4 linked regions of the Homo sapiens genome follow. The protein of the gene in region 2 purifies or fractionates together with the protein of the main gene of each other region. This does not show direct contact. Each region holds a gene or a part of one and is shown on either strand. Other genes may lie near its edges.

Region 1 (4,311 bases), on a different chromosome or scaffold from region 2:
ATACACTTAGAGGATAGACTCAGCTCATTTCCCAGCTATGCCTTTCAGCAGCTTTCTTACCAGAGTAGGAATATAATGTTAGTCATTATTTAGAGGCCTGGCCATCTTGAGAAGGTTTACTGTTTAGTCTGCAGTACAATTATAACTGTTTTTGTATATTGGGTTATTTTTTTCAGAAGTAGGCCAGTAGCTCTAACAGGAGCCTCTTTAGCCTGAATTCGTCCAAGTAGTGCAGTGTTGCACTAGTTGTCCCTCGGGACATGCTCCCCAATACGTAACTCACTTCCAGGTTGCAACTGGACACTTACTGGTAGTCAGAAATAGCTATTGCATGGAGCTTAAAATGAACTTGATCTTCGTGAAAGATGAGTCTGCAGCTAAGAGACTTTACTGTATATCATAGTGTTTTTTTTTGTTTTGTTTTGTTTTTGTTTTTGTGACGGAGTCTCACTCTTTCACCCAGGCTGGAGTGCAATGGCGAGATCTTGACTCACTGCAACCTCCGCCCCCTAGGTTCAAGCAATTCTTCTGTCTCACCCTCCTGAGTAGCTGGGATTACAGGCGCCTGCCACCGTACCCGGCTAGTTTTTGTATTTTTAGTAGACACAGGGTTTCACCACCTTGGCCAGGCTGGTCTTGAACTCCTGACCTCGTGATCCACCCTCCTCGGCCTCCCAAAGTGCTGGGATTACAGGCGTGAGCCACGGCGCCCAGCCTGTATCATAGTTCTTATGCACAAAGACCCTTTAATATTGTTTGTAAATTCTCCCCTATGCACACGCTGACCTGTTCCTTAATCTTCTTATCTGTCTAGGTTTGGAGCAGGTATGTTAAGAAGTTAGGGGATTTTGCTAAGCCGGAGAATATTGACTTGGCCGTGCAGTGCCTGAATGAACTTATAACCAATGCACTGCACCACATCCCAGATGTCATCACCTACCTTTCGAGACTCAGAAACCAGAGTGTGTTTAACTTCTGTGCTATTCCACAGGTAGGGAAGGGGGCTCCTCTGGGTGGATACGGGGCTAAAGGGAGTGGGGTAGGAGTAAGGGTGGATTTTGCTGTGCTATATTCAAGGATATGATTCCTTAAAAAGACGATGACTCCAGTTTATTACGCTGGGAGTTTCATAGCACCCGCCTTTGCTTCCAGCCACCAAACTCAGCTCAGCCTTGAGGTTAAGCCTGCTCCTTTTCAGAACCTTCTTTCTGGATTTACTATTTTCTACAGCTATCCTAAACTAGTTAGGTTCTTTTCCTCACAGTTAAGTCAAGGTCTTTGGCTTAGATTTATGGGGAGTGCTGGGTAAAACCTGGGTGAAGCTGTTATCATTAAAAAGTCTTCATTAAGCACCTAATTACTGCTGTCCTTTTCCTAGACCCGGCATAAAAAGAACCTGGTCCGGTAGACCTAGCCTCTCAGTATGCTAGGAACTTACACTTTTTAGTTGCCTTTACCAAGTATTGCAGATACTACTGCAAATAAGTGAAGAAAGTAACAGCATTTAACTGATTTGGGAACTTGGTTTGATCTTGTTCTAATGACCAACTTCGAATGGTGGTTGAAAGTAAAATCTGTATCGCCGTCTTATGTTTCCATTTACCTAGAAATACTTTACCTTTGAGCACAGGAAATTAATCCCCTTCTGGTTGTTCTCCCCCTGGCATTGGTTTTAAATATATAATGATTATGTTTGTTGTAGGAAAAATAGAAAAACAACTACAATAGAAAATTCTTCCCATATATTATTTTGAAATACATATTTCCGATCCGATAATCCATTGCTCTAGCATGGAAAATGTTGGATTTACTTGTGTTTGCTTTTTCCAAATAAAATGGAACTTTTGTGGCTACATTATAGAATTGTTTTAGACTGCTTAATTCTGTGTGTTGTTGAGAAAGGGAGGAGTGGGGAAGGTAAAAATCTTGACATACTTTCTTCGTGGGTATTTTTTCTTGAGCGATTCCATCTTAGTTGATTAGCAGTTAGCAATTGCCCATTCAACAGAAGGTTTTCTTACCTTTTTGTGATAATGATAGCTAACGACATCATTTCTTCTTTTTTCCCTCTCTTCTTGTTGTCTCTAGGTGATGGCCATTGCCACTTTGGCTGCCTGTTATAATAACCAGCAGGTGTTCAAAGGGGCAGTGAAGATTCGGAAAGGGCAAGCAGTGACCCTGATGATGGATGCCACCAATATGCCAGCTGTCAAAGCCATCATATATCAGTATATGGAAGAGGTGGGTTTTTATTTAACTACTTGGATAATTTGTAGCTACTTTTATGATTTAGTAATGTCACTGTTTAACCAGGTTTGGATATTAGATGATCCTAACAATTCACTATCCTGTGGCCTAAAGAGACAGGAATTGATATCCTTTATAAGGAAAAAAGTCTATTCACAGGAGCCGAGCAGATTGCTCACTGCTGTGTAGTACCCTGGTGAGAGGAGATAAATGGAGCAAGGCTGTAGGTTGGAGCCCCTCAGTAGAATCATAGATTTTGAGCTGCAAGATGATGCAGGAGGCCAACCAAGCTTCTTGTTGCTGGTGAGGAATGTGAGGTTGAAGCTTGTCTGTGCTGATGCAGTGCGTGATTGAGTGGATCTCTGGCTCCCGTCCATGTGTCCTGACACCCAGTCTGGTACTTTCATTATGCCACAGGCCTCAATTGAAAAATCACAGTAGGGAATTTAGGCCAAGGAAAGCCATCAAGTTGCAATTATTTCCTAAATTTTCTTTGGAAAATTTCATTTCAAATACCAAAACCATCCTATAAAAAGAAAACTTACCTTCTTAGGTCAAATCTCTAATATTTGACTAGGTTCAAAAAGTTTATTTCTGGCCAGGCACAGTAGCTTACTCCTGAAATCCCAGCACTTTGGGAGACCAAGGTGGGAGGATCACTTGAGGCCAGGAATTCAAGACCAGCCCGGGCGACATAGCAAGACCCCATTTCTACAAAAAATTTAAAAATTGTCATGGTGGTGCACGCCTGTGGTCCCAGCTACTCAGGAGGCTGAGGCAGGTGGATCACATGAGCCTGAGAGGTCGAGGCTACAGTAAGCTGTGTGATTTCATCATTGCACTCTAGCCTGGGTGATAGAGTGAGACTTTGTCTCAAAAAAAAAAAAAAAAAAAAAAAAAGTCTTAGAGACCAGAAGTCTTTGTAATCTCTAATAATCTCTAGGCCCTAGAGCAGTGGTTTGTAAATGGAGGTGATTTGCTCCCCTCCCCCCAGAGGACATTGGACAATGTCTGGAGACATTTTTGATTGTCCTAACCGGCAGGAATCGGGTGCTACTGGCATCTGGTGAGTAGAGGCCCAGGATGATGCTGTGATCCTCAGGTGTGATCCTGTTGAGAATGAAACACTGTAGACTTTATGAAAACATACAAGACCCTCATCATTTTTCCTTTGCCTGAGCTCCCTCCCCAGAGGTTACCTCTGTTCATGGTTTTGTGCATCCGTCTAGTCCCCCTGTTACGCGTTTACAGGAATATGGTTTGCAACAGTGTTTTCATCTAAATAGAATTATACAAAATAGCGATTTCTGATTTCTCTTGCATATTGCACATTCTTCTTATACTTCCTCCCTACCTTTATCTGACACAGAAATGCTGTATGTCCAGAACTTCTATCAGAGGCACCTATGGAAGTCTAAGGGAAGACCACATCGCTTTTAAAAACCCTAAAATTTTGTAGTCACTAGATGAAAATATTCAGCCAGTGACCCAAAAAATTGCTACCAATGAGACTCTCCATTTTGCCATGTAGCCAGAACTTACTTTGATCTATGTGCCTGGGGTAGTGACCAAGTAGGTGGGTAGGAGTAATCTCAGGGAAACTTGAGGCCCCAGCCTCATGGCTAGGGTCATAATTTGAACCCAGGTCTGTCTGACATCAGAATCCATGATGTTAACCCCAATTCTAAGGGGTTCAACTACCCTTTCTAAATGGAATCCTGCTATATTAAGCACTATTTATTCATTTTATATAAACTAGAAACATTTTATGTAGTAAGTAGTTGAGAGTGTTTTGGTTTTGCAGTTTGATCACTAGTTTTAGAAACCAGTTTTTAAACACTTTGTGGCCAATTCCATTACTATATTAAAATTCAGATTTATTTGGTTTTTCCTTAACTATTGGGATTAAATCCTGGTTGTAATTCATAGTTTGAGGGCGAGGGTGGGCAGTCTACAGTTGGCTGAGCCCTGTTTTTGTGAATAAATGTTATCAGAACACAGCCACACCCATTTGCTTCTTTGTCTTCTGTGGCTGCTTTTGCAATGTGACGGCCGAGTTGAGGA
Region 2 (4,363 bases):
CAGCAACTTCAGCAGCAGAGGGAAAAGTTACCCCAAAACAGAACTGAATCAAGGGGAGTGTGGACAGCTGGGTGGGGAGACTAGGAGGGAAGTAGAATTAGATTATATTAGTAATCAGGAGTGTAAATAAATGTCCACCAGGTGGACAGCCTCATCCCATGTCAGTGGGCAAACGTCACTTCAGAAACAGGCAGGTGGGGAGGTCCTGGGGAGCCTGGGTTTGGAGTTTGAGTGGATTTCATCAGGCCAGCATTATTCCACCACGCAACTATCTTATCCAAAAACTTGGGCTCCCTGTTGTCTCTACTCACATTTCCACCAGAGGATGCTGAGAAAAGAAGTTATGGTCATTGTAAAGATTCTTGGCCCCGGCCCGGCGCGGTGGCTCACGCCCGTAATCCCAACACTTTGGGAGGCCAAGGAGGGTGGATCACGAGGTCAGGAGATTGAGACCATCCTGGCCAACATGGTGAAACCCCATCTCTACTAAAATACAAAAATTAACTGGGCATGGTGGCACCTGCCTGTAATCTCTCAGCTACTCGGAAGTCAGAAGCAGGAGAATTGCTTGGACCAGGAAGTCGGAGGTTGCAGTGAGCCGATATCACGCCACTGCACTCCAGCCTGGCAACAGAGCGAGACTCCGTCTCAAAATAAATAAATAAATAAAAAAGATTTGTGGCCCCTTTACTACCATCCCTGTGGCTCCATGATCTGCAGATTAGGAGCAGCTATCTGGCCACTAAGCCCCCTGGAAGGGAGTTACCAGTTGATTACAGATGATGGTGGCTATAGCGTAATCAGACAGTGTGCAGGCTCAATGCTTTCACACTGAAATAGTAGCTGCTGACACTGCAGAATGTGTTCTCAGTCTTCAAGAATTGTCACCTCTACTGGTATTCCTATAGAAAGGGCTTATACCCCATGGAACATTTTTGTGGCTAGGAAGCATTACTTTGTTAGGACATTCATAGACTTATTTACTATTCTCATCAACACCAGGACTTCGCCTCCTTTTTAAGTCGATTTTTCACCTGTTTTTATCACAGAAGAGCTCTTGTGAGCTGGATGATAGAGAGAGCTCAGCCTTGCTGAGAGGCAGATGCAGGTAGTTACCAGCTGCAGTAATAAACTGCAGCCGGGATTCAGCTTCAGCCAAGATAGCACTTCTGGTCTTAGAGCCACACAAGTGATCAGAATCACAAATGTGAAATCCATGACTGCCCAAGGCCTGTCCTCTTCTCCTGCTGAAGGTCTCCAGTAGTGTATATCATGTTTCTGGGCTGCTGTAACCCATGCTGTTGTGTGTCACAGTCCTCAGAACTGGAGCCCTGAAGACTTAAACCGGTCCTAGGAACTGAAGCATTAAACCAGAAAGAGCTGTGGGGAGAGTTGTCAACCTAGCCCATCCCCAGGATGTAATGACTTTGACAGATCTTTTACTATAACATGAAAAGATCAGGCCAGGTGTGGTAGCTATAATTCCAGCACTTAGGGAGCTTGAGGCCAGGAGTTTAAGACCAGCTGGGGCAACACAGCAAGACCCTATCTCAAAAAAAAAAAAAATTAGGCATGGCGGCACACACTTGTAGTCCCAGTTAACTCAGGAGGCTGAGGCAGAAGGATGGCTTGGGCCCAGGAGTTCAAGGCTGCAGTGAGCCCTGATCACACCACTGCACTCCAGCCCGGGCGACAGAGCAAGACCCTGTCCCTAAAAAATGGGGGAAATCAGTTGCATGTCACCTAGACCAGGTGGGCCACACTCGCACTTGAACGTTCCGTGACATCAAGAGCAGCAGAATACCCAGACATTAGCCAGGATGTCTCCGAGCCATTCATGGCATCACACAGCCAACCAGGGCATCTTGTCATTGTTCTAGCACAACAGGGCGACTTGGGTTATCCGTAGAAATACTGTCCGTTAATGAGTTTGTGTTTTGGCTCACATGAAATCACAGCCCTGAGGAATCTTGGGAAGCCATGTCCACATGTAGGTAAGTTTTCCTTTGCATTCTCTCACTAGCCTGCCATGTGTCTCTCCTCTTTCCTAGTGGGCCAGGACTGCTACACGAGAATCTGGAGCCTCCACGATGCCCGCCTACTGAGAACCATACCCTCCCCGTACCCTGCCTCCAAGGCCGACATTCCCAGTGTGGCCTTCTCGTCGCGGCTGGGGGGCTCCCGGGGCGCGCCGGGGCTGCTCATGGCTGTCGGGCAGGACCTTTACTGTTACTCCTACAGCTAATTCTGCAGGGCACAGCCCAGAGCCATGTGGATTTGACTTACGGGAGTAAAGCGTAACTTTTTACTGCATCTAATGAGGGTGTTTTAAGTGACACTCAGTGTACACAGATCCCATCCTCTGGCTGCTAGGAGAGAAGTGCTGAATGTTCCGTGTGGAGATGCTCAGGAAAGTTATTTGAGTTAAATTGCTGGCTGAGAGAGCTTGGAAGTCCTTTTCATAAAAGGTACCTCTTTCCTTTTCTTATTGAATTCTTAGAACTTAGTTAACCCTCCCTGCCTTTTCTTAACAAAAAGGACTTTTCTAAGGACTGAAGATTGGCAAAAACGAAAAGCTTCTTCCTCCAAGAGCCCATTGAAGAAGCCCAGTGATGAGACGGTGAGATGGTTTGAGTCCTCGGTGCCTGGGTAGCAGGAAGAAAGACCTGCATCCTGCATCTGTACTTGGGGAAGCCAGCGGAGAGGACGGGGAGGTTACTTCTCTAAGTTTCTGCAGAAATATTGAAGGCTGGAGTTTGGAATCCTTAAACTTGGCCTTCTCAAACTCAGCAGCAGATCTCCGGGATTCTGCTGTTATTATCCAAAGGCGTTGGAAGGAAAGATGGATCTTCTTACATGCTAGAAGTTTTAAACGGTCCTTAACATGCCTTTGTTCAAGCACCTTCCAGAATGTAAGGTTCAGCAGCTCTGGTTTCTATTACGGTGACTTGAATGTCAGATTCAAGGGCCCGGCGTCAAAGGAAATTGGTTTTGACTTTTTGTAATCTAGGAGCGACAGTTCGTGAGATGTTTATTCAGTGTTAAAGAGCCTGTTTTTCTACCAAACAATAAAACCAAGAGAAGAATCATGGTGTGACATGCACTTCTGTGAATGACTTAGGAGATCATGAGCTTGGGCTGCTGGGACCAGCTTTCATAGCCTTCCTGGAGAGCTTCCCTGGGCCCCTCCAGACCCACTCTGCCCTCATCATCTGTCCATCTCCACCCTGCTCTGTGCATGCCCAAAAGACTCACCTCTGGACTAGGTCAGGGTTCCCTGGCTCCCAGCAGCTAGGTAGGTTCAGCCAGTGGGAAGCAGCAGTAGAACACAGAGGGCAAGAGGAGAGGGAGTGGTTCCCCGGCTCCCTTCTGGTTGGGCTGTGGGTGGCTGTAACCAAAACCCACCACTTCTATTGGAAAGCGCTCAGAGAGAGCCGGGTTCCAGCAACTCTTCATTTGTCCCTTCAGACCTACAGCTGGTCATCACACCTCACTGTTGCTGGCCCAGAATGCCTCACTAGGTAGACTCGCAGTTACCCACTTGAATGTTTCCTGCCAGTACCCTGACTAATACAGCATATTCTATAAAGAACCAAATTTTTTTTTTTTTTTTGAGATGGTGTTTTATACTTGTTGCCCAGGCTGGAGTGCAATGGCGCTCTCACCGCACCCTCCACCTCCTGGGTTCTAGTGATTCTCCTGCCTCAGCCTCCCGAGTAGGTTGGATTATAGGCGCGTGCCACCACGCCTGGCTAATTTTGTATTTTTAGTAGAGATGGGGGTTTCTACATGTTGGTCAGGCTGGCCTCAAACTCCTGACCTCAGGTGATCTGCCCGCCTCAGCCTCCCAAAGTGCTGGGATTATAGGCCTGAGCCACCGCACCTGGCCCGATTCTTAAATATATTTAATCCGTCCGCCCCAGTTATCTAAGGCTCTGACCTCTTCCTTCTCCCACCAGCAAACCCCAGGGCAGTTTGCACTGTGCCCCCTCAGCATTGTGGCTGACAGTCTTCTGTATTCTCTTTCCCACATTCAGGATCATGGTGGCACAGGAAGGGATGGCTGGATAGTAGAATGCATCCTCCACATCTTCAGGAAAGGACAGAGATACCTCAACAGGAGAAGTTGGGCAGAGACAGGCAAGTGCTGCCTCCATTTCCAGCCTCATGATGGTTCCTGGGCCATAGCAAAGCCTGGTTGAGGGGAAGAGGCCCAGGGACTGCATCTTTCCAGCTTTTCTTCACATACACAAGCAGATGGTGGCACAGTACTCCCTGATACTAGCTAATAAGCACCTACTGTATGTCAGGCCCCCCCCACCTTTTTTTTTTTTTGAGACATGGTCTCACTCTGTCGCCCAAG
Region 3 (4,910 bases), on a different chromosome or scaffold from region 2:
TTGAGTAAATACCAAATTATCATACAAGAGAACTTTACTAAGTCTCCTTTTAAGCAGCAAGATAGTTGTGGTACATGGGATGGAGAGCAGTGATCAAACAGGTATTGATCTATATCTGTTTCTGCCCAATAGCTTCTTTCTAAATTGTTTTCAGTAGAAAAAAATAGTATATGGAGACCTTAGTGTAAAGGTTTACACACGATTGTATATAATTACATACATTTCTTATTTTGAAGTAAGCATTTTAGACTTTCCAACAGGAGTGCAAATTAATGTGAGCATTGATTCATTTAACACTTAAAATATGGTTTCATTTAAAAAATTAAAAATACTTCAACACTTCAAAAACTAAGTCTCCACTTAGTTTGGAAAATTAGGCTTAATGTCACCATTGGTAAAAATTAGATATGTATTTAGCCTCTACTATGTAAAATAGGTTACTTATCTGATGTGATTTTTGATGATGGGTAGATATTATACTTCACATTCTTTGTATGGCAGCTGCTGACACTTGCACTGTCCATAACCATTAATGATGATGAAGGGTCCTTCATGGGTGGGTTCATATTCATTATACGGTCCTTGGTCTGACATGTTTGACATATGGAGTCGTGTTTGGGATCGGAGCTGCCTGTGGTTCTGAACCATTGAGCACTGCCTAATTCTTCTTAAAGTGGGAGGGCAGCACTTCCTGGAGATGAACACTATAAAAATAATAAAAAAGAAAGAAAACAATAAAGCCATTGTTCCCGTAATTACCCGCTGAGTGAAGATGGCATTGTCTGGTTCAGGAAAGTGTTCCTCGGTAGTAACTGCTATGCCTGCAGTAGTTGGGATTTCTTTGTCTCCCACATGGTAACTTGATGAGCTTATTCTTTTTGTATATTCAGTGGTTGGATCTCTATAAGTTGTAGCCATGACAGTGACAGTGGTTGACAAATTCCAGCAGAGCTGAAATCCATGGACTGCATCTAGAATATCCTCTCCTTGGGTGTGGTCAGGACTGTGGCATAGGATGGAGTGTTCCCACCGACCTTGGAAACTGCCCAGCCAGGAGGCCAGAGCACATATTCGGGCGCTGCATTCCCACAGATTGCCAGAGAGACCAACGGTTGTGAGGGATCTCAGGGAGTTTAAGATCTTGGAATCAAGGCTGTTTAACTTGTTGTTATCCATGAGGAGTATTTTAAGATTGGGCATCGTTTCAAACACTGTCAAGTCGATGGCTTTGATTTCATTTCCAGTCAGGTCTAGCTTTTCTAAAGTGCCCCAGGTCCACTCCATCCCACATGTCAAGTTGCTGATTTTGTTCCATTGTAAGAAGAGCGTGTGCAGACTGCTTAGCCGTAGGAAATGAGCAAAATTAATCTTCGTCAGCTGGTTGTGCTCTAGGTGAAGCTCTCTCAGTTTAATTAATCCTGCAAATCCATTGCGAGCCAAACTTCGCAAACGATTTGTGCTCAAATCCAGAAACTCCAGACTACGACAGTCCCAGAACAGGCGTACTGGGATAGTCCGCAGGGAGTTGGAACGTAAATGCAAGGTCTGCAGCTTCCGAAGGCCATAGAAGAGCTCTGGGTGCAGAGATGACAGCTGATTAAAAGACAGGTCCAAATTTTGCAGGTTAATCAGTTGGGTAAAAGTTGTGTTTGGCAAGTAAAATATTTTGTTGGAACTTAAGATTAATTCCTTAAGTTTATATAGTCCTTGAAAAGCATCTTCTTTTACTGTTGAAATTTGATTGTGATCTAAGTGGAGCCAAGTAAGTTGACTGAAGCTGGCAAATTGATCTCTTTCGAGCTCTGTGATGTGATTGTGCCTCAGGGACAGGCCCAGAGAGCCCTTGTCTGTGGCGTTTGGCACTGAGTGGAAGCCCTGAGAGTCGCAGTAGAAGAGCAGCTTCTCGCAGCGGCATTTGGGTGGACACGCCATACCCAGGGCAGGCAGCATTTTTAAAACCATACTCATTGCATATATTGCTGCCAGCATAGGGGCCCCTAATGGCCACTTGAAATGTAAGCCTGCAGAATATAATTTAAGGAAAACAAGAAGATAGGATATTTTTCAGCAGAACATATGGGCTATTTAAAAAAAACAACCACCACCAACATTATAGCAAAAGATTTCACTGCATATAACTTATTTTTCATTTACTGCAGAAAAATTAACCTTATTGGTATGACTGGACCAAAACTTAAGCCATTTAAAAAGAAGATAAAACATGTCTCTGTCATCATCGATATATGCTTTTACCTAAACCTCAAAATCCAAAATATGATGGTGATTTCCCTCATAAAATGTGAATTCGGTAGCTTATTTTAAAAGCGTGATTCCTTGTTGAATGTACAAGACATATAAATGCACAGACTTACCCATTCTTCTGAGCACATTGGAGGCTGCATTCAGTCGCGGTTGTTAGACTCAACGCAGTGAGTCTGTAAAAGGCTCTAACATGTAGGAGCCTTTGACCAGTTTCCTGTTTTCTGTGTCCCAGGCTTTCCAAGTAAAATTGAATCCACCAGGACGAGTTGTTTTTTCCTTAGGATATCCCTCTGGAAAGCATTGGTTTCATTTTCTGTGATTGCTCTGATCCCTAAATCAGTTTTGAATATAAGTTATTAAATTTCTCCACCTCTAACTGCTCAGCTGGTTAATCAAAGCTTCAGTCTCCTTTCCGCAGCCGTTAGTTCTCTTGGTCTTAACTTGTTGATGGCAGATGGGTGGCTTGTTGCAGAGAAGAGCTCCTGGAGCAGCATGAGTGCATTTACTGAAAAGCTTTTCCGAGAAACGGCACAAGAATGGATTTGCTTATGTGCTGCGACCACACAGAACTGTATATAGGCTGACGTCACCGGATGACGTGTCTTTTGTTTGGGTTTTCCAGAAGCTTTACTGTTATAAAGCACCATGCTTTGTAACAGCATCGGGGTCGTTGCAGGACCCCCTGATTACAATAAAGCGAGAAAGAAGAACTCCTGACTTAAAAACATGATATTCCTTCAGTGTAGGAAGCAGCAGTGAGGTTGTAATAAAGGCTGCATTCAAGAAGACCCATCTGAACAGTGAGTTGGGTTAGCAGAGTGATGATTTTTAATGCTTGTGAGAGCCAGTGTTAGACTGCCGATTCTGCATAGAGAGATCATCTAAATGGGCAGAAGCCTGCACAATTTATGAAGTGCTGATTTAACACCAGCCTATGCAAGGTAGTGTCGCTGCACTGGTAGTTTGGAAAGCTATTCAGTTGCCTTGTTGTCATGCTTGGTTAAAATCAAAGTATGACTATGATTTGCTTTAGATGTGTTGATAAACTAGCTAAGTGGGCTTGGCTTGTTTGTCATCAAGAGCTTAACATTATAAACGAAGAATAAAGGGGGAGGGGAAGCTTGCAAAACAAAGCATGTGGTTATTTTTTTCTTTGAGAATTTCAGGGGAACTCTAAAAAGATTTCTCTTTCTCCTATTTTATAACAATGTTTTGTCGCCATACTGATTGAAAAAATAATGCTGAGTTGATCTTTAAATGTCCTCCTGGGAGGACAAGGCAGGTTGATACAGTCATTTTAATGCACATGCCCTAACAGCAAAGCAGAGATGATTTAGGACAAGTGATACCGTGTAGCTGGATTCTGACATGGCCCCTTGTATTTTACCTCAGAATCTCACCTACTCCATAACTAAAAGCCTCCGCTGGTACTGAGGTTGGTGGTTGTGACACTGAAATAATAGAGCATTTGCACCCTAGTTCCCAGCCACCAAGTGGCTGACTTAACTGAGCCTACTGCTGTTGTTAGAACCTGTCTTGTGAATACAAAAGGTCACTCATGCTTTGGACTGGGATTTTTGTTTTGACTTGATTTTGCTTGCCCTAACTCCAGTTTCTCCCTGTTGAATGGTGTCTTCACTTTTCAGACCTCAGTTGTGGATGTATAGCTCCATGTTTAGTGTTATATAAATGCAAAAGATGTTTCTAGATGTTATATTTTCAGGCCTGACAAAGGTAAGCCCTTTTCTACATCTTGCCTTATTGATTTGACCCAACATACCTATTTCTCCCATATCATTGGCACTTACCCTTTGTGGGTCTTGTCTCAGACCTAAGGACAGACATCTTTAAAACTACTGATGGTGTCTGTGAAACAAGAACATCGTTGGCCTTTTTGGTTCTGAGGGATTCATCCCACTGGGCAGATCTAAGAAGTAATTGTCTTGGGTAAAATTTTTCTGTTGTAGTGTTGTGCTGGAGTGAGAGCTGTGAGACTCCAAGGTCCCTTCCTTAGGGCTCTGTGTAAAGGTGCTATGAAAACTGCAGCAGTGCAGGTGTGTGGTTTGAGTCCTCCTAGAAGTGATCCCAAGGTAGAATTAGAAGTACAAGAGGCAAAAATGCCTACGAAGTACAAAGGGAGACAGAAGGCAGCAGGAATGCTCTGAGAGTCTTCGTACCACAGGGCAGGTCTGACACCTGTGAAGGGACAGAGGAAGCAAAGAAGATGAGATTGGCATTGTGGTTCTTAGACACATTTTGTAGGCTGAATGGAAATTCCCAAGCCAAAGTTGCCAGTGAACAGACTCTTGAGTCCTTAGTAATGAGCCTGCACTAGTACGTCCTCTTTGTTCCTTCTTGCTGGTTAAAGAAGGGAAGGAAACAAGTCCTGGTTTAGACCCGGGGAATGCTACTCCCCCTCTGACCTTAATCCTTCCTATAGTCTCTCTCAATAGGCTAGAACTTCTTAACCTGGTTCCATAAACTGTCTTGTGAAATTTTTTTGCTTGTTCATTTTTCTGTGGATAAGGTTGAGTCCGATTCCTACAGGGTCTCTCACCCTAGGTTTCAGAGCTGCTGTTCTACAGGAACTTGCCCCCAAAAGTTCTAAGGACAGTAGTCTCATAGGAGTGGTCTCTTAAATTTCTTTT
Region 4 (4,311 bases), on a different chromosome or scaffold from region 2:
GGAGTAGAGAGTTGTGCTCTCCTTAAAAAAAGAGATTAAGGGCTGGGCATGGTGGCATATGCCTGTAATCCCAGCACTTTGGGAGGCTGAGGCTGGAGGATTGCTTGAGGCCATCCTAAGCAACATAGCAAGACCTCTTATCTACAAAAAGATTTAAAAAAAAAACGAGCTGGGTAAGGTGGCACACACCTGTGGTCCCAGCTACTCAGGGAGCCTCAGAGGGGAAGATTGAGCCAGGGAGGCTGAGGCTGCATTGAGCCGTGATTGTGCCACTGTACTCCATCCTCAGTGAGAGGCTGTCTCAAAAAACAATTAAAAAAACACACTATTTGGCATTTTTCTGCCCAGGAGATTTTTTTCTTTTCCTTTATTAATTTATGTATATCAATATGGACTTATAGATGTGTATTTTATATGTTAGGTTATAATCCAATACTATTTTATTTGCTTTATTGCTCAAATGTTCCAGTTTTGAACATTGGGAACTCTTTTAGTTTTTTACTTGGCCCATCTCCCTTTGACATTTGCCATCATTGCAGGTATGATTTTGTTCTCTGCTCCAGTCCTGCGGTCTGCCATTTCTCCAAGAAGCCCTTGTTCTTTTTACTAAAGAGTAATGTTAAAAACTAAGATCTGATCACTAGGTGTTTTTATTTCTATGGGAGTATTTTTTTTTATTTATGGGAGTTTTATTTTTTTATGATTATTTTTATTATCATCTTTTACTTCTCTCTTGCCCTCCTCATGTATATCAGTTATCAAAATATCATTCTTTTATTCCTACTGCTGTTACCCTTATCCCATCTACAGTACTTGTTAGCTATATAGCCTTGGGAATCTAAGTCTTAGTTTTCTCATCAATGAAATTGGAATAACTCCTGCAACACAGGATTATTATGCGTATTAAAATTTAAATAAAGTAATTTACATGTTTGGCACATAAAAAGTGTCCAACACATTGTTCTATAATTATTACTATTATGTAAGGGTCATTGTATGGGTTAGAAGAAATTACTATATATGGCCAAGTACCAGGCATAGTACTTGGGCCATTCCAAGTGCCTGCTAAAATTCTAGTTTCTGTTGTTCTGCAAATATTACTGTGACCTCCTAAACTGGTCATCGTATTTCCAGTCCCTCTCTTGTTTCATTTCTACAGATACACTGCTACCAGATTACTGCTTCTTAAGTGCAAATTTAGTTATGTAATTTTTGTTCAATATTAATTCATCAACCCAGAGTCTGCTGTTATATATGGCATATATCTTTCTAAACTGTTTTAAACATAGCAGAACCAGATGGTATATACATTTTTATATCTTGCCTTTTCATTTAGCCTTATGAGGTAAATGTTTTTCCTTGCTATTAAAAACTCTGTAAACATCTTTTAAAATACTGGCAGAGTGTTTTATAGTTTGGGCATGCACCCTATCTTACTTTCTTCTGTTATTGGACTTTTAGATTGTTTTCAGAATTTTTATTATAAGAACACTAGAATGTTTTTGTGCATGCATCTTTTTCGGCATTTAGGGTTATTTTCTTTTTCTTTTTTTTTCTTTTTTTTTTTTTGAGACGGAGTCTCGCTTTGTCACCAGGCTGGAGTGCAGTGGTGCGATCTCTGCTCACTACAATCTCCACCTCCTGGGCTCAAGTGATTCTCCTGCCTCAGCCTCCCGAGTAGCTGGAATTACAGGCATGCACCCCCACTCCCAGGTAATTTTTGTATTTTTAGTAGAGATGGTGTTTTACCATGTTGTCTAGGCTGGTCTTGAACTCCTGGCCTCAAAGGATCGCCCACCTTGGCCTCCCAGAATGCTAGAATTACAGGCATGAGCCACCGTGCTCGGCCTGATTTTTTAAATTATCTGTAAGATGAGGTCTTGCTATGTTTCCCAGGCAGGTCTCCAACTCCTGGGTTCAAGTGATCCTCTCACCTTGGCCTCCTGAAGTGTTGGGATTATAGGCATGAGCAACTAGTTTTTCTTTTCCTTTTTTTTTTTTAAAGAGACAAGGTCTTGCTCTGTTGCCCAGGTTAGTGTACAGTGGCACAGTCATAGCTTGCTGTAGTCTTAACTGTTGGGGTCAAGCAATTCTCCTGCCTCCTCCTCCTGAGTAGCTGGTACTAGTACTACAGGCATGCGCCACCATGGCTGGCTAATTTTTGAATTTTTTTATAGAGCTATGTTGCCCAGGCTGTTCTCAAACTCATTTTCACAAGCAGTGCTCCCACCATGGCCTTCCAAAGTGGTGGGATTACAGGCATGAGCCACTGCACCCAGCCTAGTTTTTCTTTTTTCTTTTTCTTTTTTTTTTGAGACGGAGTCTTGCTCTGTCTCCAGTCACCCAGACTGGAGTGCAGTGACGCGATCTCTGCTCTGCCAACTGGGCTCAAGCTATTCTGCCTCAGCCTCCCAAATAGATGAGATTACAGGCACGCACCACTATGCCCAGCTATTTTTTTGTATTTTTAGTTAGAGATGGGGTTTCACCGTGTTGGCCAGGCTGGTCTCGAACTCCTGACCTCAGGTGATCTGCCTGCCTTGGCCTCCCAAAGTGCTGGGATTATAGACGTGAGCCACCATGCCTGGCCCCCAGCCTAGTTTTTCTAAGCACATATGCATATATAACATTAAGGTAAAATGACATATTTTGAATTATACTGTTAAGATTGGCTGTTATTTTCTAAAATATGAATCCTTGAAACACCTAGTAATCTTCTGAGATGTGACACAAAATAAATAACTAAAATAGAGGCCGGGAGTGGTGGCTCACGCCTGTAACCTCAACACTTTGGGAGGCTGAGGCGGGTGGATTGCTTGAGCCCAGGAATTCGAGACCAGCCTGGGCAACATGGCAAAACCTCGTCTCTACTAAAAATACAAAAAATTAACTGGGTGTGGTGACACACACACTCCTGTAGTCCCAACTACTTGGGAGGCTGAGGTGGGAGGAATTGCTTGAGCCTGGGAGGTGGAGACTGCAGTGAGTCAAGGTCCAGCTATTGCACTCCAGCCTGGGTGACAGTGACCTCATCTCAAAGATAAATAAAATAAAATGCAAATAATGTTTCTGTGCACAAATTTTGAGAAACACTGTAAACCATATTCCCATCTTGCATATGTACCTGAATAAGAACATAGTAACTCATTTAAGCCTTGCTGTTAAAAAAAACAAACGCAAAATCTTTTTTGGTGTTTAACCCAGAATTTCCCAAACTTATTTAACAATTTTTAGGGATAACCCCTGTTTAATATCTTATGGGAGTAGTATTTTACATAACAAAAGCTTTGGGAAATGTGATTAAATGATAGGACTACCTTTTTTATTTTTGTTTTTTTGAGATGGACGCTTGCTCTGTCGCCCAGGCTGGAGTGCAGTGGTGCAATCTCGGCTCAGTGCGACCTCTGCCTCTCAGGTTCAAGCGATTCTCCTGTCTCAGCCTCCCAAGTAGCTGGGACTACAGGCACGTGCCACCACGCCCAGCTAATTTTTGTATTTTTAGTAGAGACGGGGTTTCACCGTGTTGGCCAGGCTGGCCTCAAACTCCTGACCTCAGGTGATCCACCCGCCTTGGCCTCCCAGTGCTGGGATTACAGGTGTAAGCCACCATGTCCAGCCTAATTTTTAAATTTTTTATAGAGATGGAGGTCTTACCATCTTACCCAGGATGGTCTTGAACTCCTGGGCTCAAGTGATCCTCCTACGTCAGCCTCCTAGTGTGCTGGGATTACAGACGTGAGCCACCATGCCTGGCCTATTTGTTGATTTCCATTTTTATTTTAGATTTAGAAAATGTGCAGGTTTGTGGTTGGGCGCAGTGGCTCACGCCTGTAATCCCAGCACTTTGGGAGGCCGAAGCGGGCGGATCATGAGGTCAGGAGATTGAGACCATCCTGGTTAACACGGTGAAACCCCATCTCTACTAAAAATACAAAAGAAACTTAGCCGGGCATGGTGGCGGGCACCTGTAGTCCCAGCTACTCGGGAGACTGAGGCAGGAGAATGGCGTGAACCCGGGAGGCGGAGCTTGCAGTGAGCCGAGATCACGCCACTGCACTCTAGCCTGGGCGACAGAGCGAGACTCCGTCTCAAAAAAAAGAAAAAAAAAAAAAAGAAAATGTGTAGGTTTGTTACATGGGTATAATTATGTGATGCTGAGGTTTGGGGTATGAGTGATCCCATCACCCAGATAGTGAGCTTAGTACCCAATAGTTAAGTTTTTTTTTTGTTTGTTTGTTTGTTTTTTGTGATGGAGTCTTGCTTTGTTGCCCAGGCTGGAGTTCAGTGGTGTGATCTTGGCTCACTACAACC

Evidence for each region. Proteins that work in one complex are often made in the same cells at the same time.
Region 1: the proteins of DCAF4 (region 2) and FDFT1 purify together in Homo sapiens (affinity purification with mass spectrometry; one large-scale study listed by BioGRID and IntAct). This does not show direct contact.
Region 3: the proteins of DCAF4 (region 2) and LRRTM2 purify together in Homo sapiens (affinity purification with mass spectrometry; one large-scale study listed by BioGRID and IntAct). This does not show direct contact.
Region 4: the proteins of DCAF4 (region 2) and PYM1 purify together in Homo sapiens (co-immunoprecipitation; one large-scale study listed by IntAct). This does not show direct contact.

The regions. Positions count from the first base shown.
Region 1 is NC_000008.11:11,829,430-11,833,740, forward strand, and holds part of FDFT1 (squalene synthase), read left to right. Parts: intron 1-814; coding exon 815-991; intron 992-2,088; coding exon 2,089-2,241; intron 2,242-4,311. UniProt on the Homo sapiens protein: Catalyzes the condensation of 2 farnesyl pyrophosphate (FPP) moieties to form squalene. Proceeds in two distinct steps.
Region 2 is NC_000014.9:72,956,561-72,960,923, forward strand, and holds the end of DCAF4 (DDB1- and CUL4-associated factor 4), read left to right. Parts: intron 1-2,051; coding exon 2,052-2,245; 3' UTR 2,246-3,143; downstream 3,144-4,363. UniProt on the Homo sapiens protein: May function as a substrate receptor for CUL4-DDB1 E3 ubiquitin-protein ligase complex.
Region 3 is NC_000005.10:138,872,536-138,877,445, forward strand, and holds the start of LRRTM2 (leucine-rich repeat transmembrane neuronal protein 2 precursor), read right to left. Parts: upstream 2,801-4,910; 5' UTR 2,377-2,800; coding exon 2,373-2,376; intron 2,022-2,372; coding exon 475-2,021; 3' UTR 1-474. UniProt on the Homo sapiens protein: Involved in the development and maintenance of excitatory synapses in the vertebrate nervous system. Regulates surface expression of AMPA receptors and instructs the development of functional glutamate release sites.
Region 4 is NC_000012.12:55,917,895-55,922,205, reverse strand, and holds part of PYM1 (partner of Y14 and mago), read left to right. Parts: intron 1-4,311. UniProt on the Homo sapiens protein: Key regulator of the exon junction complex (EJC), a multiprotein complex that associates immediately upstream of the exon-exon junction on mRNAs and serves as a positional landmark for the intron exon structure of genes and directs post-transcriptional processes in the cytoplasm such as mRNA export, nonsense-mediated mRNA decay (NMD) or translation.